Linked DNA regions of Homo sapiens: region 1 is linked to region 2. The links come from fine-mapping of genetic effects on gene expression. Tissue or cell type: whole blood. Region 2 holds a variant in brackets; the other region holds the start of a gene. All regions are shown on one strand. Distances are between the middles of the regions.

Evidence for each region. PIP is the estimated chance that this variant, and not a neighbour inherited with it, causes the effect.
Region 1: it holds the start of SFXN4, and the variant in region 2 is fine-mapped to the expression of SFXN4 in whole blood (TOPMed, PIP above 0.99).

Annotation. Positions count from the first base shown.
Region 1 is chr10:119,161,995-119,172,402 of GRCh38, reverse strand. It overlaps SFXN4 (sideroflexin 4), which reads left to right and starts at 6,689. Exons shown (of 14, transcript NM_213649.2): 1 at 6,689-6,866; 2 at 8,207-8,272; 3 at 9,989-10,063. The coding sequence starts at 6,756. PRDX3 (peroxiredoxin 3) reads left to right here. Exons shown (of 7, transcript NM_006793.5): 5 at 1-21; 6 at 3,061-3,226; 7 at 3,870-4,683. The coding sequence ends at 3,923. RefSeq lists silencers at 6,541-7,010, 7,052-7,238.
Region 2 is chr10:119,201,281-119,213,009 of GRCh38, reverse strand. GRK5 (G protein-coupled receptor kinase 5) reads right to left here and starts at 5,439. Exons shown (of 16, transcript NM_005308.3): 1 at 5,041-5,439. The coding sequence starts at 5,092. It overlaps GRK5-IT1 (GRK5 intronic transcript 1), which reads right to left and starts at 4,589. Exons shown (of 2, transcript NR_186528.1): 1 at 4,360-4,589; 2 at 306-1,529. It also overlaps the pseudogene RN7SL749P. RefSeq lists silencers at 5,013-5,062, 5,113-5,182, 5,393-6,222 and enhancers at 6,563-6,672, 6,693-6,742, 6,853-6,932. The variant A/G (reference allele first, on the strand shown) is at 5,882.

The sequences.
Region 1 (10,408 bases), 40 kb after region 2:
AGGTTCTGGTCTTGCACTAAGGTAAGATCCTGTTTCTGATGAACTTAAGATTATTTTTCATGTTTAGTATCATTCTGCTTCTTAGGGGATTTATGTAGACCTTGGTAAAGCATTTTTAAAACCAGAAGATCCTGGCTGGGCATGGTGGCTCATGCCTGTAATCGTAGCACTTTGGGAGGCCAAGGCGGGAAGATCACTTGAGTTCAGAAGTTCAAGACCAGCCTGGGCAACATAGTGAGACCTCATCCCTATTATATTAAAAAGAATTAAAATTTATAATAATCAATCCTTAATTTTAGTCTTTAATAAACACTGATGAAATGCCTCCTGCAAGGGTTGGCGGTCTCTCAGAAATGCTGAGACATGCATGTCCCCTCCACCACCTTGGGTCTCTTTCTGAAGAAGGCTGGCTGCGTCTTGAGGCCACACTGCTCCATACTCCCTAACTATGTGGGAGCCACTTCCATGGGGACACACACCTGACATTGAAGCCATCAGACTCTGCAGAAGGGGGGACTAGCAGGGTAAGAGGTAGTCTCTTGGAATGGTGACCATCTTCAGCCCTGGAACCAAACAATCCTTGGTTTGAGTTTTTCTTTTTTTTAACTCAGCTACTTAATAGCTGTGTGACTTTGGGCAACTGATTTGATTTAACCTTGTTGAGCCCCAGTTTTCCCATAACTAAAATGAGGTGGTACGTCACAGGTGGGTGTGAGGATTAAATAGTGACACAGCTAGAGTTTTTAGCATAGTTACTGGCAGCAGTTGTTAGGATTTCTGCCCCAGAACATCATTTCTATCTGTATTCAGTCCCTTATTAAACCTTTATTCCTTTGAGTGTGAAAAGCTTTCAGTCCTCAGCAGCCCCACATTCAAACATAACCTTCCTGGGAGGGATGAGAACTTGGGTCTTAGAATTGGCATCTTGAAGTCTGCTGAGAATAGGAGTGAAGGAGGGATAGGGCAGAACTTGACCTCCAGGAAGGAAGAGAGGGGATCCCCCTTTGATGTGCTGTGCCTCACAGTTTTGCTGGGGGCTGGTCAGCTTAAAGCCAGCTCACCTGGCCGGGCGCGGTGGCTCAGGCCTGTAATGCCAGCACTTTGGGAGGCCGAGGCAGGTGGATCACGAGGTCAAGAGATCGAGACCATCCTGGTCAACATGGTGAAACCCCGTCTCTACTAAAAATACAAAAAATTAGCTGGGCGTGGTGGTGGGCGCCTGTAGTCCCAGCTACTCGGGAGGCTGAGGCAGGAGAATGGCGTGAACCTGGGAGGTGGAGCTTGCAGTGAGCTGAGATCGCACCACTGCACTCCAGCCTGGGCGACAGAGCAAGACTCTGTCTCAAAAGCAAACAAACAAACAAACAAACAAAGCCAGCTCACCTGCCTGTCTTGTAGGTGACCTCTGGCCTGCTCTTTCTTGGGTTACACCTTGGGTTTTAGCGCTGAGTGGCATCTTAGAGTTTGGGCCTTTTTTTCCTCTCTTTTTTTTTTTTTCTTTTCTTTTCGAGACGGTGTCTTGCTTTATCGCCCAGGCTGGAGTGCAGTGGCGTGATCTCGGCTCACTGCAACCTCCACCTCCCGGGTTCAAGCAGTTCTCCTGCCTCAGCCTCCCGAGTAGCTGGGATTACAGGCACACGCCACCACGCCCGGCCAATTTTTGTATTCTTAGTAGAGATGGGGTTTCATCGTGTTGGCCAGGCTGGTCTCAAAACTCTTGACTTCGTGATCTGCCTGCCTCGGCCTCTCAAAAGTGCTGGGATTACAGGCATGAGCCACCGCACCTGGCAGACCATTTTTTTTTTTTTAAACTTTAAAGAGATTATCAAACGAATGCCTAGGTCTTTCAGAATTGTCAATGGCCAGAGAAAGGGTACTGGCTATTTTTCTCCTACGGTCCCTTTCCCTATGAGAACTCACTAATTTTGCAGTTACCTCTGTACCCGTTTTAATATTGAGATTAACAAGAGAGAGAAGCTGAGTCTGGCTTATAAGATAAAGACTTTTGGGAGTCTATGGGCCCTGCTCTGTCCCAGCTCTGCCTCACCTTCTATTGGTGGACTTCAGCTGGCTGCACCCTCTGGGAACAGTTTCACCTCAAACCCCAGGCTCCCAGTGCCTGACCCAGGGAGGGAGAAGCATCTTTTATCCTGAGTTTTCTCTAACCTGCCTTTTCCATGAGTGATTGATACCTGAAATTTCCACATCCTTTTAAGACAGACTGTTAAAACCTGTAGGTTAAATAACCGGACACAGTGACACACACCTATAGTCACGCTACTTGGGAGTCTGAGGTGGGAGGATCAGTTGAGCCAGAAGTTCGAGGCTGCAGCCTGCTGTGATCACACCTGAGAAGAGCACTGCACTCCAGCGTGGGCAATACAGTGAGACCCTATATTTAAACCAAACAACCAAAAAAACTTCTAGGCTAAACATATCTGCATCTGTCACAGTAACACCAACACAGAAGATAAACACAGACCACTGTGGTAGCGTGGTTCATCTCATTACATGCTGCTACATGATTAAAAGTGATGGGCATGGTTTTCTGTTTTGCATAGACTTAGAGCCTGTACATTCTTTCTATGAAGATTTTTCCCGTGGGATTTCCCCCCATTTACCCAATAATTCATTCATAATAAACAGTTGTTGAACCTAGATAAAATACACCTCTGTCTCTTCCCATTTGCCTATAAGTTTCTTGCCAAGATGTGATACAGCAGCTCAAAGAATGCTTGCCAAGTCACTAATAGTCTTTGCTCTCTCTAGTTCAGTGACTTTCCGATACTGTGTAACATTCAGGGCACTATGTGAACTTGTAAGTGTGACCATACTGCATGTTTTATGGTGACCTGGTCCAGTACTGCCTTTGTTAAAGCATCTGTCATCAGTAAGAGATGATAAGTTTTTTGCACAACAGTGAAAACCCCACCTTTAAGCATATGATTACGCTTAATAAATATTTTATTAAAAGGAGAATTAAAGACCTAAAAGGGAAGAAGTTAGACTGTTCTAGTTCTGGTACTGTTGAGGCACTGATGAGGATAAATGATCATGCAGAGGTCTCTTCATAATTGACCCCAATGGAGTCATCAAGCATTTGAGCGTCAACGATCTCCCAGTGGGCCGAAGCGTGGAAGAAACCCTCCGCTTGGTGAAGGCGTTCCAGTATGTAGAAACACATGGAGAAGTCTGCCCAGCGAACTGGACACCGGATTCTCCTACGGTAGGTTTTTTTCCCCAAAAGCAGTGAGGTCCATGTTCTCTCAGCCTCGAGAGCTATTGACCTGAAATATCCACAAAAGGGAGCCCACTCTTGAAGCAAGCGTGCAGATGATATGCAAATGGGTGAAGCTGCTGTGGGGTAGAGGGGGTGGGGTGGGGAGCCAGGAACCAATTATCAGAGACAGGCAGGCCTTTTTTTTTTTTTTTGAGACGGAGTCTTGCTCTCGCCCAGGCTGGAGTGCAGTGGCGCTCTCTCAGCTCACTGCAAGCTCCGCCTCCTGGGTTCACGCCATTGTCCTGCCTCAGCCTCCTGAGTAGCTGGGACTACAGGGCGCCCACCACCACGGCTAATTTTTTGAATTTTAGTAGAGACGGGGTTTCACCGTGTTAGCCAGGATGGTCTGGATCTCCTGACCTCGTGATCCACCCGCCTTGGCCTCCCAAAGTGCTGGGATTACCGGCGTGAGCCACCGTGCCCGGCCTAGAGACAGGCAGGCCTTAATGAAACTTTCATCTTTATGTTTTAAAGGAAATCTTTAAAAGTTTAAAGAACTTTAGGTTAAAAATTGGGAGATTGCCACTCACTTTTGGGACTATTATTATGGTAAAGTCACAGTTACCTAATTAAGCTTTTGTATTTTCAGATCAAGCCAAGTCCAGCTGCTTCCAAAGAGTACTTTCAGAAGGTAAATCAGTAGATCACCCATGTGTATCTGCACCTTCTCAACTGAGAGAAGAACCACAGTTGAAACCTGCTTTTATCATTTTCAAGATGGTTATTTGTAGAAGGCAAGGAACCAATTATGCTTGTATTCATAAGTATTACTCTAAATGTTTTGTTTTTGTAATTCTGGCTAAGACCTTTTAAACATGGTTAGTTGCTAGTACAAGGAATCCTTTATTGGTAACATCTTGGTGGCTGGCTAGCTAGTTTCTACAGAACATAATTTGCCTCTATAGAAGGCTATTCTTAGATCATGTCTCAATGGAAACACTCTTCTTTCTTAGCCTTACTTGAATCTTGCCTATAATAAAGTAGAGCAACACACATTGAAAGCTTCTGATCAACGGTCCTGAAATTTTCATCTTGAATGTCTTTGTATTAAACTGAATTTTCTTTTAAGCTAACAAAGATCATAATTTTCAATGATTAGCCGTGTAACTCCTGCAATGAATGTTTATGTGATTGAAGCAAATGTGAATCGTATTATTTTAAAAAGTGGCAGAGTGACTTAACTGATCATGCATGATCCCTCATCCCTGAAATTGAGTTTATGTAGTCATTTTACTTATTTTATTCATTAGCTAACTTTGTCTATGTATATTTCTAGATATTGATTAGTGTAATCGATTATAAAGGATATTTATCAAATCCAGGGATTGCATTTTGAAATTATAATTATTTTCTTTGCTGAAGTATTCATTGTAAAACATACAAAATAAACATATTTTAAAACATTTGCATTTTACCACCAGTAACTGTTGGATCAGCTTATTTTGGGCTCTCCTTTCCTTCTCAGATTATCAACAAACATTTATTGAGCATTTACCTCAGGGGCCACAAAGAGAATAAGATGCTGGTTCCGCACTCAAGGAACTCGGTTTAGGGGCAAGACAGATAGGGAAACATTTTCTCGTTGTTTCAGTAAATCCTTGAGTGCCTACCCCGCACCAGGTGCTGTTTTCCAGGCACAAGAGCGAACAACGGACAAACCCCTGCTTTTAAGCTCTTACATTCTAGAGGGGAAACACCTCATACATGTAGTAAAAGTAGAGTGTTTGGAAGGAAAATAATGTGGAGTGAAACTGCTGAAGCGGAGTTGTAGGTGTTCTAGATGGGGTTGTCAAGGAAGGCCTTAAGGGAGAGCCTCTCTGGATCAATTTTCTCATTGTAAAATGAGGACAATAATTGTACTTATCTCAGGGTTTTGATGAGCATCGAGGGAGAGAAAACGCGTAGAAAGTGAGAGTATTACGGGGATAAGAGACTTCTAGGCAGAGGGCAGGGAAAACACAAAGGCCGTGAGGCAAGAGTGGGCTCAGAGCGGATGCAGATTTACTAGGAGGCCGGTGACTATGGCTGTGGTGGGGGTCCCAGAGTGCCTTTTGGCCAGGCCAAGGACTTTAGGTTCTGTTCTGGGGTGGGGAATGTCAGGAAGGATTTGAAAAGAAGAGTGACATCAACTTGTTCTAAGAGAATCACTCTGGCTCCTTTGTTAAGACGACATAGCAGTCCAAAGTGGGGAAGCAGGCCAGCGGGCTGGCTTTGTGACATCCTGGAGGGTAGAGACAACAGAATAGAACAGCACGCTACATACTGCACTGGTGCTTAGATGGATTTCTGCGGCATAAGGGTAGAAGTGGAGGGGGCACCTTACTCAACTCGGAGGGTCAGGGAAGGCTTCCTGGAAGAGGAGATAAACCCCTGGAGGTTAAGAAAAGTGAGCTAGGCAAACTGAGCAAATACAGAAGCAGAGTCATACAGGCCTGAAGGACGCCATGAGCCAATTTCCTGTTCCTGGAGGCGCAGGGCAAGGGAAGGAATTGGCCCGCTGGAGGTTAATGGCCAATACTGAGCACTTCTGAGGGCTCAGTGCTGTGTTAGGGATGTTTTATCTCCTTTGATCAGAAACAAAACCCTGAGATAGGTACAATTGTTATCCTCATTTTGCGGATGGGAAAATAGACTTCGAGATACTGACTTGGCGAGGGTCACACAACTAGATGATGTGCTGGGTCCCCCAGTCCTGGACTCCGGAGGCCCCCTGAACGACCTAGGCACACTTGTGGCTTCCGTGAATTTAAGTGCACACAGCCCCCGCCTGGCCCTGTGCTGGGGAAGGGCAGGTGGGAGGAGGAAGGGAAGGCAGGTTTTTCTTTACAAATGGTACCTATTTGGTAGTCAACAAAAGGAACTGGATTTGCCCCAACACTGGAAGAAAAAAAAAAACAACCTGTTGGGCTGAGGGATAGTGCACTGTGCCCAGGGCCCTATACTTGGTTTGATGCTCTGGTGTTACTCTCTTGAAATTCTCAGTAACATGAATAAGGGGCACCGCATTTGACATTTTCCCTGGGCTGAGACCATGATGCAGCCGGCCTGACTGCGCAACACCATGCACACTGGAATTCGTGGGCCATCGGAGGGATTTTCGAGGGTAATGACCAGGGGTAGGGCGCGGCAGAAGCGCAGGGTGAGGTTGCGGACGGCCTCACTCACAACCTTTCCGGGTCTTCGCATTAGGTACTGTGATGACGGGTTCCGATAGTGACCCCTTGGGGCCTGGAGACGGCCCGGCTCCCCAAAGGTGCGGAGCAGGGCAAGCAGGGTTGGGAGGACGTGGCCCGTGGGAGAGCTGCGCTCGCCGGAACAGTGGGCGCGCAAGGGCCCCGAGGCGCTGTGACACGGGACGTCGGGCGCGCGGGCCTGGGGCGGGAACTGCGGGTGCGCGCGGCCCGGGGCGGGGCTCGCCGCCCGGCTCCTCCTCCACGCGCGGCCTGGCGGCGGCGGCCACTCTAACCAGCGCAAAATGTCCCTGGAACAGGAGGAGGAAACGCAACCTGGGCGGCTCCTAGGACGCAGAGACGCCGTCCCCGCCTTCATTGAGCCCAACGTGCGCTTCTGGATCACCGAGCGCCAAGTACGGCCCGGGCCCGGCGCGACTAGGGGCAGGGAGGGGGCGGGCCGGGCCGCGTGGAGTCGGGCTGACCCGGGTGACCTTGGCCAGGCCACGTGGGCGCCCCCTGTCTCCGTTTCCTCCTCTCGGAGTTGTGCCGGGAACGCGCACCACCGGCCTTCACCCCTTAGGGCGCGGCAGGGGACGCAGGGGAAATCGAAGCTGCCAGATGCCCACGACCACAACGTCACCCTCCAGATTGCCCTCTCGGAGGGGCCCAGTCCGCGCAGGTGGCTGCTCCCTACTGCCTGAGCTGTGGCTGAGCAGCAGATTGGGGAGAAACAGGCTCTCGCACCTTGGTAAGCTCAGCCACTTTCGGTGAGACCCCCGAGGCTTTGGGAAGCCACCCTTGGGCAGGACATAAGCAGGACTTATCTCCCTGCAGCGTCTAGGGCAGCACCGTCCAATAGAAATATGATGTGAGCCTTACAGGTAATTAAACATTTTCTAGTAGCCACATTAAACAAGATAAAAACAGCTGAAATTTTTAACAATACAGTACATTTAGCCTAGCAGGTGCAAAATATTAACATTTCAACATGTAATCAGTAAAAAACATTGCTGAGATATTTTACTCGCTTTTTTGGTACAGAGTGTTCCAAATCCGGCGTCTGTTACCTTCACAGCACATCTGGGTTCAGCCGCATGTGGCGAATTGGAGAGCAGGGCTTTAGGGGGTTCTCTTTGAGGCCTCTCCTAAAGTGGGGTCCAGCCCTGTTTTTTTTTTAGGTGGGGAAATTGAGAAGGGGCGGTGAGCTCAGGTTGCTCCAGCAGAGCCAAGGCTTAAAGCCAGAACCACTACAAAGTTTAGAGTTTGCTGGAGCAAACCTCTTTTTCCCCAGTGTGACCCCAGCTGCACCATTGAGCCCTTAATGGGGCGTCCATCCTTTGTCACTGGAGTGAAGCCTTATAGCAAGCAGAGAGTGAGGCCACAGACTCTTGAGATATTCTAGGCCATTGCTTCGAGGTCGTATGTGAGATATGAACGTAAGACCATTTGAACCCCCAAAGTCTGGGATTTTAACCCTCAAGGGCAATTTGATACTGAGAGGTTAAGGGCACAGACTTCTGAATCATTTCCTGGCTGTGTTGCCTTGAGTACATTCAGGAGTCCCTCTAAGCCTCAGCTTCCTCACCTGGAGAACCTGGAGAGGTTGGGAGGATCCCAGGAGATGATGCCAGTAAAAGGCAGATCACAGACCCTGGCAGGTTCTCAGAAAAAAAAAAAAAAAGCCAACTGTTAGTATTTATATCTTTATTTTTCTGCTGCCATTAACCTCTCTGTTGCTTTTCTCCCTCCTAAGTCCTTTATTCGACGATTTCTTCAATGGACAGAATTATTAGATCCTACAAATGTGTTCATTTCAGTTGTAAGTATTGTTTTCAGAGCTAATGAATTTCACATTTTATTTTGAAACTTGAAGTCTGTGTGTCCCTTTTTTTTTTTTTTTTTTTTTTTTGAGACGGAGTTTCGTTCTTCTTGCCCAGGATGGAGTGCAGTGGCACCATCTCGGCTCACAAGAACCTCTACCTCCCAGGTTCAAGCGATTCTCCTGCCTCAGCCTTCCGAGTAGCTGGGATTGCAGGCATGCGCCACCATGCCCGGCTAATTTTGTATTTTTAGTAGAGACGGGGGTTTCTCCATGTTGGTCAGGCTGGTCTTGAACTCCCGACCTCAGGCCCTGCCCACGTGTCCCTTTTAAAAGCAGTTGAAATAACAGAATCTACATATATTATTGTGTTTATTCCTTCTAAATGAGCTTGTCAGATTGGAAGGGGTAAGGAAAAGCGTACATCTGACCGTGTGCCGTGGCTCATGCCTTTAATCCCAGCACTTTGGGAGGCCGAGGTGGGTGGATCACCTGAGGTCAGGAATTCGAGACCAGCCTGACCAACATGGTGAAACCGACGTCTCTACTAAAAATACAAACATTAGCTGGGTGTGGTGGCAGACACCTGTAATCCCAGCTATTCGGAAGGCTTGAGGTGGGCGAATCACTTTCTGAACCCAGGAGGTGGAGGTTGCAGTGAGCCGAGATCTTGCCACTGCACTCCAGCCTGCGTGACGAGCGAAACTCCATCCCCTTCCCCCAGCAAAAAAAGAAAAGAAAAGCGTACATCTGTTTAACAGGTAATATCAGGCCCAGGCCAGGTGCTGGGGATTCAGAGAGAATCAAACAAATCTTCCACGTGATGGAGGACAGACTGGCTAAACTGGTCACATCCTGGGTGACAAGAGTGAAACTCCATCTTTAAAAAAAAAAAAAGAAGAAAGAAAATGTAATAAAATTAGAAGCAAATATAACCAGATGTTTACAGTTGTTAATTCTGGGTGAGGGGATTATAGTGTGTAGCCATTCTTTGTAATTTTTGTATTTATTTTTTCTCAAATTAAGAAATGGAGGCTGGCTGTGGTGGCTCATGTCTATAATCCCAGCACTTTGAGAATCTGAGATGGGAGGATCTCTCGAGAATAAGAATTTGAGACCAGCCTGGGCAATGTAGCGAGACCCTATCTGTACAAATAAAAATAGAAAGTTAGCCAGGTGTAGTGGGTTGTGCCTGTAGTCGCAACTATTTGGGAGGCTGAGGCAAGAGGATCACTTAAGCCCAGAAGTTTAAGGCTGCAGTGAGCTATGATCACACCACTGCACTCCAGCCTGGGCAACAGAGTGAGACCCTGTCTCTTAAAAAACAATAAGAAAAGAAAGAAAGAAAAAGAGAGGAAATAAGACTGAACTGATAAGACATGGAAGTGGGTGAGGGAGAAGGACTTCTAGGTTTCTGACATGTATAGCCAGGGGATGGTGGTAACCATTCAGTGCGACAGTTGACATCAGAGAGTGGGGGAGGTGACAGCACCATTGGGGGCAGCTGCTGGAGCATCTAGGAAGAGGAAGGCATAAATCTGAATGGCACTCAGGGCTATCCTAATGGATAGAGAGCCTAGGGCACCATGTGGCTTGAAATCAGGCATGCAGTCGAAGTCCAGTGCATGCTGGTGAGTGAGCTGGTGATTCCTACCTCTGGGGATAAACCTGAACAATGTTGAGATCATTACTTGATTACTTGATATCTGATTTTAGGAAAGTATAGAAAACTCGAGGCAACTATTGTGCACAAATGAAGATGTTTCCAGCCCTGCCTCGGCGGACCAAAGGGTATGTTTCACGTGCTCAGGTCTGGCTGGTTGCCCTCAGATGGTTCTGCCTGCATGGTCTGAAGTCAGGTGGAATTTGGCCATTAATCTCTGTCTCCGTCTCTTTTCTTTCTTTTTTCCTTCCCTTGGGAGCCACTGTTCTATTGGCTATTAATGCTGTCATTGTTATATACTGCCCAGAGGACCAGCTTTGCAAAACTGGGTTAGTTTTTTAAATGTAGTTAGAATTCTGTCCCATAAACCAGACAGCAAGTTTCCTCCTACACAGTGGATATTTGTGGGGATTCCCTGCAGCTGATTCCTGGAGCCCAGTGGCAAACCCCAGAATTCAGACAGGGCTCTGACG
Region 2 (11,729 bases):
GGTCCCCACTCCCGAAAGGTCACCATATTGATGCCGAGCTTACTGCAGATACCCAATAGGCATAGTTCGCTCCAGACCAGTACTCCTGGGCTCAAATGATCTTCCTCAGCCTCCAGAGTAGCTGGGACCACAGGCTGTGCCACCGCACTCGGCTCCACCATTCTATTTTGATGTGAGAAATGGGTGCTGAGGGCTGTATGATTGAGGAAATTCCTAATTATCTTCTCAATGTGTCACCTGTTGGTAGTCACTTTCTGTTTTCTCAAGTTTCACCTCTGAGTTGCATGACCTATGACAATAATGCCTTTTGGTAACCAGAAGACTTTTTTATTTCAAAAATGTCTAGACATTATAATGCTTTATCTTGCACTCCAAACATATTGGCAACAAATATTAACTTTGAATATTGCCCACAGTCCTGGATAGTTTTATTTAAAACATCCCAGATATGGATTGAATAGCCCTTGGTAAAGGTGAATTTGGTTAAACATTGAGCCCGCTCCTGAAATTCACTTGGGCATTCTGGAAGTCTTCAGCCCAGATCCAAAGGGTATCATTTAGCAAGCCACTATAAGAGTTATAGCTTCTGAAGACATAATTTAAACAAGGATTAGTTTGGGCACTGGAAGAGTCAAGCACTTTGGAGTTTAGAATCTGACAAGCAGCAGCTAAGCTACTGAAAGATGAGAGCCTTGTGGGCATTTATCTGATGGTTTTTCAAACAGGCAGCCAGATTAACTACAATCATCGTTTGAAATCTTTAAGAAAGCAAAAGGCCTTCTGAAAACATTGCTTTTGGTTTCTCTACCTCCAAGTTGTCAGTACTGAAAAGGAAACTTTAAAAAAAAAAAAAGAAAGGCAGTTTGATTTAACGGCATTGTGTTTAACAGGCCAGGCTGCTTTTACACACACCGAGCTGCCTTAACCAGGATGAAAGCTGTCGCTTGGTAAGATTAACATTAAAATTGAAGGAGAAGCTTCAGGGTGGAGTACGTATGCCTCCACGTATGCCTTCACATAGCCATAAGAGGGCTTTGAGCTTCAGAGATGTTCCAACGTTCTAATAACCTAATTCACCATGTTTTGGTTTTATCACCATGAATTAGGGGTGCAAGGGAAAGAGGTCCAGGGCTTTCAGCCGTGCTGTGGAATGTTAAGTCTGTCCACGCCATAGCCTGCCCCACGCAGAGCTGGATGCTGGCTCACTCCTTCTTCCTGCCCTCCCTAACCTCTTCCAGGCCCCGAGGTGCTAATCTTGATGATCAGGAAGATCCAGCCAAGTCACAGAGTTACCTGAAAAAACGGTTCCTGTGTATTCTAATGTTTGGCAATTGTGACAAATGACAAAGTTGTTCCAGTCCTAACTTCTCAATTCCTGTGCTTGCTAGGGCCTCAGGAAAATGTGATCAATATTCCTTCAGGTATCTTTTTTGATCAGATATGGCTACTGCTGGCCTGTGAAGAAAGGAAAAGCGGGGCCTTGCAAAATTTTTTCTCACCACTGTTCACTCAGAAGAAAGGCAACAGATCTAGAAGATGAGAAAAACACAAAAACCTTTACTGCAACAATAAAACCAAAAAGAAACACACAAAAGGCACTCAGCAAACTCTCCTTCTCATTATTATTTCAACATTAGGTCGCCTGCCAATTTTCTGAGATTCTGAAATGTAAATAAATAGATAGAGTTAGTCTGGGCCTCTTTTTCATGAAATGCTTAATCACTTAGCTCATTCCCATAAATTGCCATGAATTCAGTCTCAACTTCTTTCTTTTTTTCCTTAAGCACTTTTTAGGAGAGCAATCTAAAGTTCCTAAGAGTGATCGAGTTGATGTTTTCTCATGAGACCCAGGACAAATAAACAGGCCCCAAAATACATTTCCGTGGTTCAAAATCTTGAACCCATACCTCTACCTTTTCTTATTTTAAAATAATTATCACAAGTGTTCATGAAGCTTGCTTGCTATATTTTCTAATTACTAACAATCCATCATTTTACTCTAATCCACTTACAGGCTTTCTATTTTATTGCTACATTAATGCTTTCCACTTTATATTATGTCTTATTACGGTAAGACTTTGAAGATACAGTGAATTTAGGAGCCATCTGTCTTTAATGCAAAACAAAAAGAAAAGATAGGTCCCAGTGTTACCCACCAACATGGACAACTACAAATTATTTTACAGCATTTTCAAAGTGTGCCTGTCTTTCTTCAAGGTCTGTTTCTCTATTGTTTGGGACAAATGTGACTTTTACTTGAAAGCCAAATTTTAAATTGCTTACGGTGTATTTTGTTAAGTGAACTAAATTAAATTTCACATTTGCCAATTATATTTCTCATCTGTAACCACTGACAAGAATCTTTAAGAAGTGTTTTTAAACCTTTTAAACAACTCAGATTTTTTTAATATACTGTTTTATATTAGATATTTCACTAAACTGACTGAAGATTTCATTTCTGAATATTTAGATAATATGGTTATTTGGAGAACTACTAAGTTTAGTAAAATAAATTCAAATATATGAGAACTGAGAAGAGAAACATAAATTGCTTTAATTTCTAAAAGTGTCCACACTAATTAGGATATATGGGCTCAAGTCTCTAATAAAGGCCCAGCCAAAAGAAACTGGAAGCACTTAAAATCATGGCTTTCCTCTAGGCATAAGAGAGAAAGAAGGGGAGAGATGCAAATTGTAAATGAGGTTTCCATTAAATGATTAATTTTTCTTGTTCACGTGTCAGTCTCTCCCTGCTTCCGCAGGCCCTCTCCATTTCCAAGGCATCATCAAGAGCTATTTTCTCACCATGAGATGACGACCAAACTCTCACAGCAAAATTGAAAAAGCCTTTAAAAGGAAAAAAAAAAGTGAAAGGCACATTCTTGAGCACTTTCAATCACTGTAATTCTGCCCCAATGGGAGTCGGTCACTCCACACAAGCTTCCAGCCTGCAGCTCTCTTCTCCAAGGCTCTGGGAAAAAAACCCAATTTGTTGGCCTAACGAACAACAATATCAGACAGTAAATTCACGTTGGTGAAAAAATACTGGGGAGAACAATTTGGAGGGGGCGGGTGGAATTGATATCACTTTGCCCACTCTAAGCAAAGCATTATAAAAGAAGCAACCAAATGCTCAGGGAAGAAAAAAAGCATCTATCAGGCAAACAAATATCTACAGCAGCAAATGTCGGGGGCAGATTCCCTGGGCAACAGGAGGAACCAGCGAAACTTGCAAGGCTCCAGTACCATCAGACCCAGTGATTTCCCAAGAAATAATTTCAGAATGGAGCGAGAGTGAAAACTTTCCCAGCCCCCGAATCCTGAGATACACAACCGTGTCCCACCACTAGGTGGCCAGCTGCAAAGGCTGAAAGAGGGGCGGGGGAGGTGGAGGGCTGTTTTCTCTGCTTCCTCCCTTTCAGGACCATTCCCCAACCCAGAGGAGAGCCTACCAGCACCCACCTAGATCCTGTCCACTAAAAATGTCAGGTTAGGAAAAAAAAAAAAAAAAAAAAAAAAAAACCACACACACACACACAGCTCAGGCCTTAGAACCTGAAGTCACCAAGTAACAAGCCTCTCCTAAAAATTTATTCCCACCAAAGCTAAGCAATGGGAGGGAGACTAACCTGAATATTTTAAACTCTGCTGGGGTTTTCAAAGCACTGCCTCCCTTCGGGGCTTCTGAAATAAACCTTCTTGCCCACTGGCTGCTTTAGAGTGACAAGTGACGACGAAAGTAAGACACGAATGCCGGGTTGAGTTGCTGAAACGCTGCCCACGGAAGGCTATGCATCACCTACCCCCACAGTGTGTAGGGAGCCACAAGGTGATGGAACGGGCTGAATAAACACGAATCGTTTTATTGCTGGCCAGAAATTCTTCCCTTCATTCATCAAAGTAGGTGAATGAAAATATTAAGCAGGTAAGACATTTTCATGGGCTGCTCACCGAGTATCCTTCTAAACTCAAGCCCTTACTCAGTCTGCCTTCTACCTTGTATCAAATAAAGCGTTCTCCCGTGAAAGGGAAAAACCTCTTCCCCTTTTATGAAAAAGGTCGCACACTAGAGCTCAAATCTTGACCAGAAAAAAAAAAGGAAAATATGCGACATAAATTCCAGGTATTCCTAAATACATATGTTTACATGGACACAACACAATCATTTCAGGAAGCACCCAAGTTTCTGCCTCCCCCCCCTTTTTTCTGTTTTTCATCAAAAGGAAGAGTCAAAATATGCGTTCTTAGGGTTTGACTCAGGATCTTACACACTCCATTTAGACAATATTTCCTGCCAGCTAAATGCAGGAAATCTAATGATTTGCATAGAAAACGTATCTAAAGCACCAGCACACTTACCTTTCTTTTCTTAACTGAGCCAAAATCTAACAATTTCAGTTATCACACTCCCAGAAAAGAAAAACCTGAAATACTGAATTATTTTCTAGGTGGTCTGTACAGCCATCCTTTGATAATTCTATGAAAAGGCTAATTCCTCAACATCTGACTTTGCCTTTAAAAGGCTTCCTTCCACACGACGGGATTTCCCTAAGAAACATCCCAGCGGATGGTTTCCAGCAATAGTCTATATCAACTCAGCCTGCGCAGGCAAAGACTTGGCTTCTGCTCATTCCACCCCCGCCCCTCGAACACACACACCAGTTCACACAGAACCATCCCGGGCCGACTTGAAACGCTATTTTATGTGCATGTTTGCTCGTCGCTCCCCGAATGAATGCTTTTCCAACTGACCTTTCAACAGCTGCCGAGATGGCACGCTCTGCAGGGCGAGCGCTGGAAACTAGGAGATATGTTAGCATCCAAATCCCTGCAACCTTCTCAGCCCAAGTCCAGATTCTCTGAGCCCCAAGGCAGGAACCCTGAAGGGTCTGCAGAGCCGCTCTCCGAAGTGTCCTGCTCGCGACCCACTCGCCGGCAGCGGGCATCCTGCACGGGCGCAGCCCCAGCCCGCACGCCACCCGACACCCGCACCCTGGCCCGCGGCGGACGCGCCGGGCACGTACCGGCCCTGCCTCTTACCTTCCCTGGCTTTCAGCAAGACCGTGTTGGCCACGATGTTTTCCAGCTCCATTGACAGTCGGCGGTCAGCAACGGAGCCGGCCGGCGGGGCTGTCAGCGCCTGGGGTGCTGCCGCTGCTGCTGCCGCTGCTCGGGCTGCCGCCGCTGCTGCCGGAGCCGGGGGAGCCAGCAGCCCGCCTTGCCTACCGCATTATTCCTGCTCTCAGCCCAAGAGTTTCCCCCTCTGCAAAGAGGAGCCGCCGCCGCCGCCGCCGCCGCCGCCGCTTCTTCCTCCCTCTGTGTCCCCCCTCCCCCCTCCCTCAACACGCTCCCCCCCACCCCCCACCCTCCGCGTGTCTCTGTCACTCCATTCTCCTCCCCTCCGGCTCCCTCGGATGCTTTAATGCCTCGGATGCTTCTGCCTCCCCTCAGTCCCTCCCGGGGGTGTGGTACTAGCAGGCTCGGGCGGCCGCACTGCGCAAGCGCCGGCCCAGGCGCGCCTCCTGCCTCGGTGCTCGCGGCGCGGGGCCTGCTGGGAGCTGGAGTCCTCCCGGCCGCGCGGCGCCGGGGCTGAGCTGGGCTGGCGCGCGGCTGTCGGAGCGAGGACCCGCCCCGGGACGGCACCGAAAGCGAAGGCGGGCACCGCCCGGCCGACAGGCGACTCAAAGGCGGCCCAGCCAAGCCGAAGTCCCCAGCACCCCCCCGCAGGCTCCCGCTTGCCCCCTTCCCGCCCCGTCGCCAGCCCGGAAAGCGGAGTGCACGGGCCCCGGTGACGGCGCGTGAAGCGCCGCGGCCCGGCAGGAGCCAGTGCGGGTCCCGAGCCGTGCTCGGAGTGGGAGGGCTGCCAGCTCGGCCGCGCGCC[A/G]CAGCCCGCTTCCTCCGGTCCGCGCCAGGCCCGCGAGGGTCTGAGTCCCGGGTCAGTGACGCGCGCCCAGGGTCCCCGCACGCGGCGGCGGCCGGCCCGGCCTGGCCCCTGCCCAGCGTCTCCCACGCGGCGCCTCGGGCCGCGGACAAAGATGCACTTTGTTTCCTCGGAGGGCGCGAAGGGCTCTGCGGGTCGGCTGCGACCCGGCGCTGGCTGCCCGCGCTGCTCTCGGTGCGACCCGAGCGCCCCCCGCCGGCCGCGGTGCGCGGCGCGGGGTCTACGCGGACGGCGCCTGGGGCTCAGGGTCCAGCGTGGGAAGCTGCTTATTCTGTGAATAAACTGCCTTCCAGCACACCCGGCCAGCAAATCCACGAGCCTCCCTGCAGCCAAACCCAGCCAGATTAAGTAATAAAAACGCAGACGGAGTCGCCGGAGTCTCCGCCGTGGGGAGCGTTAATGAGTAACAGCCAGGCCAGCGCCAAGCCGGCGTGGGATTAACGTTTTTAAATTCCGGTCTTATTTATTTTGGGGCTCTTAGCTCCTTCCAGTGTTATGCTCAGAACATCAGACTCCAGGTCTGTGCTCAGCCCCGTTTCCTTGCTCCCTCCGCTCCGAAGGCCCCACTCCTGGAAATGGGCTGTCTTCGGTCACCCGGGATCTGCCACGAGTGTCCTACAGCTGGGGGCGGGGCAGGCAGGCCCCAAAGAACAATGAGGCCTTTGCCTCCTCTGCATCCTGCGGGCCGGATATCCGTTCAGAAGCCGACTCTGGGCCTTCTCTGTCCAGAAGGAGGAAACCCTCTGTCCCCAGGGCTGCCAGGAAGTCGCAGGGAGGTGCCGAGAGAAACAGAGAACAGTTATTATGCATTGGAGAATATAAAGAAATCAATAAACCTTCCAGGCCTTGGAAACTGGTCTGGTCACTGATTGTAACAACCCAAGATTACCTGCTTTCCTGGGGGAGTATACCCACCACCACCACTTCCTGGTGTCTAGACTTGGGTCAGTGAGTCTCCCAGGGCCTCATTTATCTTGTCTGCAAAATGGGGGCAACAACAGTTTACCTGTCAGAAGGCGGAGGGCTCAGCGGGTAACTTTTCAGGCACTTACCACTCCAGGAATTACTGTTCTAAGCAATCCAGGCTTGGTCTTTGCTACATATTCACGTGCCTAGAGCCCTAACCTTTAATGAAAGGATCTCTCTCAGACAGCGAGACCCCTAAAGCTGGCAGCTCCTAGAGCCCTCCACCAACCACGCTGGTCACTTGCTGGCAGCATAGGGCCTGATGAAGCCCGAAGTTTGTTTATTCGGCTAACATAAAAAAAAAAAGAAAGAAAATTTTTGAATGCCTTTAGATGGCTTATGCACCTTAACAATTTTCTTGGGCCGGGCGCGGTGGCTTACGCCTGTAATCCCAGCACTTTGGGAGGCCGAGGCGGGAGGATCACGAGGTCAGGAGATCGAGACCATCCTGGCTAACAGTGAAACCCTGTCTCTACTAAAAATACAAAAAAAAAATAGCCGGGCGTGGTGTTGGGCTCCTGTAGTCCCAGCTATTCAGGAGGCTGAGGCAGGAGAATGGCGTGAACCCGGGAGACGGAGGTTGCAATGAGCCGAGATCGCGCCACTGCACTCCAGCCTGGGCGACAGAGCGAGACTCCGAACCAAAAAAAAAAAAAAAAAAAAAAAACAATTTTCTCAAAGGTTGTTTTTGTTTGTTTTTTTGTTTTGTTTTGTTTTGAGACAGTTACTCTGTCACCCAGGCTGGAGTGCAGTGGCCCAATCTCGGCTCACTGCAACCTCGGCCTCCCAGGTTCAAATGATTCTTGTACTTCAGCCTCCCAAGTAGCTGGGATTACAGGTGTGTGCCACCATGACTGGCTAATTTTTGTATTTTGAGTAGAGACGGGGTTTCGCCATAATGGCCAGGCTGGTCTTGAACTCCTGGACTCAAGTGATCCAACCCGCCTCTGCCTCCCAAAGTGCTGGAATTACAGGCATAAGCCACCATGCCTGGCTCAAAGTTTCATGAGCATACAAATCACGGGGGATCTTGTTAAAATGCAGATTGCATTTGGATAGATCTGGGGTGGTTTCTGAGATGTTGCTCTTTCTAACAAACTCCAGGGCTCTGTCGATCCTCGTGGTCAGTAGACCACACTCAGAGTTGAAAAGCTTTCTAGTTTACCGTAACTCCCTATTGTCTTATACCCAGCCCAAGTCACTAGTGATTTTATTTATCTGGCCTGTATAGACATTTAAGTTTTCCATCCTGGGAACCCCTGCCTCTCCCTCTCATTTTACAGATGTGAAACAGACCCAAAGTAAGTGAGTTGGCATGGTCACTCAGCAAGTTAGTGTTAGACTATTTTTTTGTCCACTACAAGCTGTTGCATCCTGCCTACACAAATACATGGTTGTACATCAGGTTTTTGTGCCTCTATGAGGAAATTCAGACACTCCAATGCAAGAATGGAACAATAATGGCTAGCATTTACTCAACACCAACTGTGGGCCAGGCTCTTGTGGTCTTTTAAATGGATTATCTCCTTGAACACAATATCCAGATGAGGTAGGGAACACAGGCCTATTTTATAGATAAAGCACCAGGTTAAGAAAGGTTTTATAGGCCGGGCACGGTGGCTCACGCCTGTAATCCCAACACTTTGGGAGGCCAAGGCAGGCAGATCACCTGAGGTCAGGAGTTCGAGACCAGCCTAACATGGTAAAACCCCGTCTCTACTAAAAATACAAAAATTAGCTGGGTGTAGTGGCAGGTGCCTTGTAATCCCAGCTACTCGGGAGGCTGAGGTAGGAGAATGACTTGAACCCGGGAGCCAGAGGTTGCAGTGAGCCAAGATCATGCCATTGCACTCCAGCCTGGGCAACAGAGTGAGACTTTTTTTTTTTCCTCAAAAAAAAAGAAAGGTTTTATAATTTGTCCAGGGTCACATAAGTAATAAGTAGAAGACCCGGGATTTGAACCTGTCAGCCTGACTCAGAGTTGGTGCACTTAATTTCTGGCTTGCGCAAGCTAGCCAGCACAGCTTGGTAGTAACTGTTCTGTGTGGCTGCCGGGATGAACTTGTATTATAAGAAGGCAAAGCACCCAGTTGACTAAATCATTAAGATTTCAAGGGGTTTTCCATTTTCATCTATAATTCCACCATTATGGCTTTATTCCTTTCAATTAACTGCACTAACAACTCGTGGTCTTCTTGAAAAATGGGTTTGATTCAAGGAAGAGTAGGCTATTAAATATAAATAGCTAAGTAGGGAATCATTGACAGCCAGCTGAGAGCAAGAAGGGAAATCCAAATGGAGGAGTGGGGGTGAGGATGGAGGGATGGGAATATGTCAAAGACAGCCAGCTTCAGACTCCACTCAGGAGCAGCTGAGCCAAAAATGCAAAAGAAGTCAGATGCAGTGGCTCATGCCTACAATCCCAGCACTTTTAGAGGCTAAAGCAAGGGTGCAGGGGATGGGGGGGTGGAGATCGCTTGAGCCCAGGAGTTCGAGACCAACCTAGGCAACATAGCGAGACCCTGTCTCTACGAAATAAACCTAAAAATTAGCCAGGTATGGTGGCACTGAGCTATGATCGCCCCACTGCACTCCAGCTTGGGTAACAGAGTAAGACTGTCTCTAAAAAATAAAAAAGCAAAAGAAACAGGGAACCTTCAAATTCTTCTCTCAGCACCTGTATCTGCCATGAATAAAGCTGCTGGGTCAGAGTTCTTGTAAATAGAAGTCTACTATGCTGGAAAGCCACAAACCTATCGGCCTTCTAAAATATAGATTCCTTTTGCCTGAATAATCAAATTGGCTTTCTGAATAGTCCAGGAACTGGAGTTTCCATTCCTTTCCTTGACTCAAAGCTTTTTAATCCTCAGGAAGCAGCTGCAGATAGAGCTTCCATTCTCTCATTTATCCTCTTCTCCTTCAGAGTTTACCTTTCTGTGTCCAGCCCTGCAGGGAGTTCAAGGCAATTTCCCAGGGAGCTCGCCACTGGGAAGGAAAACACACCGGATGCAAACAACCTCCATACAATGGAATAAGGGCCATTGTGGAGACACACACAAAGGACTTTGCAAACGGGAAGAAGTGATTTCAGGCACCAAAAGAGGAGAAATGTGAGCTGAAAGCAAATCTGGAGGCTTGAGGTTTCCAGTTAACATTTCCTCCCCTCTGAATTCCCTTCATCAATGGACCTCAGTGGTTATCAATTGGACATTAAAAGTTTTACTATGGGCAGGGCACAGTGGTTCACGTCTGTAATCCCAGCACTTTGGGAGGCCAAGGTGGGCAGATTACCTGAGGTCAGGAGGTCGAGAACAGCCTGGCCAACATGGTGAGACCCGTCTCTTCTAAAAATACAAAAACTAACCAGGTATGGCAGCGTGCGCCTGTAGTCCCAGCTACTCAGAAGGCTGAGGCACGAGAATCACTTGAACCCGTGAGGCAGAAGTTGCAGTGAGCCGAGATGGTGCCGCTGTGCTCCAGCCTGGGCGACAGAGCGAGACTCTGTTTCAAAAAAAAAAAGAAAAAGTTTTAACATGTTGTAAACTGCCTATTGCTCTTCTAGTGACTTCATATTTTTCTTTTTTTTTTTTTTTTTTGAGATGGAGTCTCGCTCCGTTGCCCAGGCTACAGTGCAGTGGCATGATCTCGGCTCACTGCAAACTTTGCCTCCTGGGTTCAAGCGATTCTCCTGCCTCAGCCTCCCGAGTAGCTGGGATTACAGGTGCGCACCACCACACCTGGCTAATTTTTGTATTTTTAGTAGAGGTGGGGTTTCACTATGTTGACCAGGCTGGTCTTGAACTCCTGACCTCAAGTGATCCACCCACCTCGGCCTCCCAAAATGCTGGGATTACAGGTGTGAGCCACCATGCCCGGCCAATATTTTTCTTTAAAGTCAGCTCACTTTGAAAACTTTAATTCATCCTAACCAATAATATTTGTGAAATGTGAGGAGTAGTAGAAGTGTCATGCTTGAGAAAACCAATCTCCAAGCAACACGTGGTGTCTTTGCAGCCTTTGGTTTCCAGATGAACTGGCCAATCTTAATGAATCGATTGGTTTTGCCAGGTGATTATTACCTATACACATCTAACCACCTAGCTTGGTCACAAGATTTTGTGGGATCATTTGTCTTGCATCAATTCTCAACTGCAAGTTCAGAAAAGAAGATTCTTGCTGAAATGCACACACCTGCTGATTGTCTCAGCCACATGTGGTTGCCAAACTCCCATCACTACAGCAATTTAACACAGTCTTCTTTAATGAAAAGGAAAGTCCTCCTTCCCTGGTGCCATGTTCAGTCAGGAGGGTTCCCACAGTAGATGTGTTACAAAGTTTAATGAGACAGCTTTTCAGTCCGTGCACCTTTCTCCAGTACCCATCCCATTACTATACCCAGAACCTCATCCAATCCTCCAAGGCAGGTACTTTCGAAAGACATTGTTGCCTCCATTGTATACAGAGGCAACTGAGCCTCAGAGAATTAGGAGGTCTGCTGCCCAAGGCCAACTGATTAAGTGGATGGTGAGGCTATTTAGGTGTCTGCTTTCCCTACTCAAAGGCCTAAAATGTGTCTTTTTTCATCTTTTGATTCTCTTCTCTATTGAACCTAGTACATGCCTGACACAGGGAGCATTTGGCCATATTTATTGACTTATACCCCATATGGCATGACTCAGCCCCACCTGGGCCTCCTGGCTGCTAAGTTTTGCTATATTAGGTAACTATCAAAATTCCCACATCTCTGCCAGGTCAGATTTTAAAAGGGAAAAAATTAGGGGAGATTGGTCTCCTGTCAGAGGTCAACGTGTTACAGAAAGTCAAG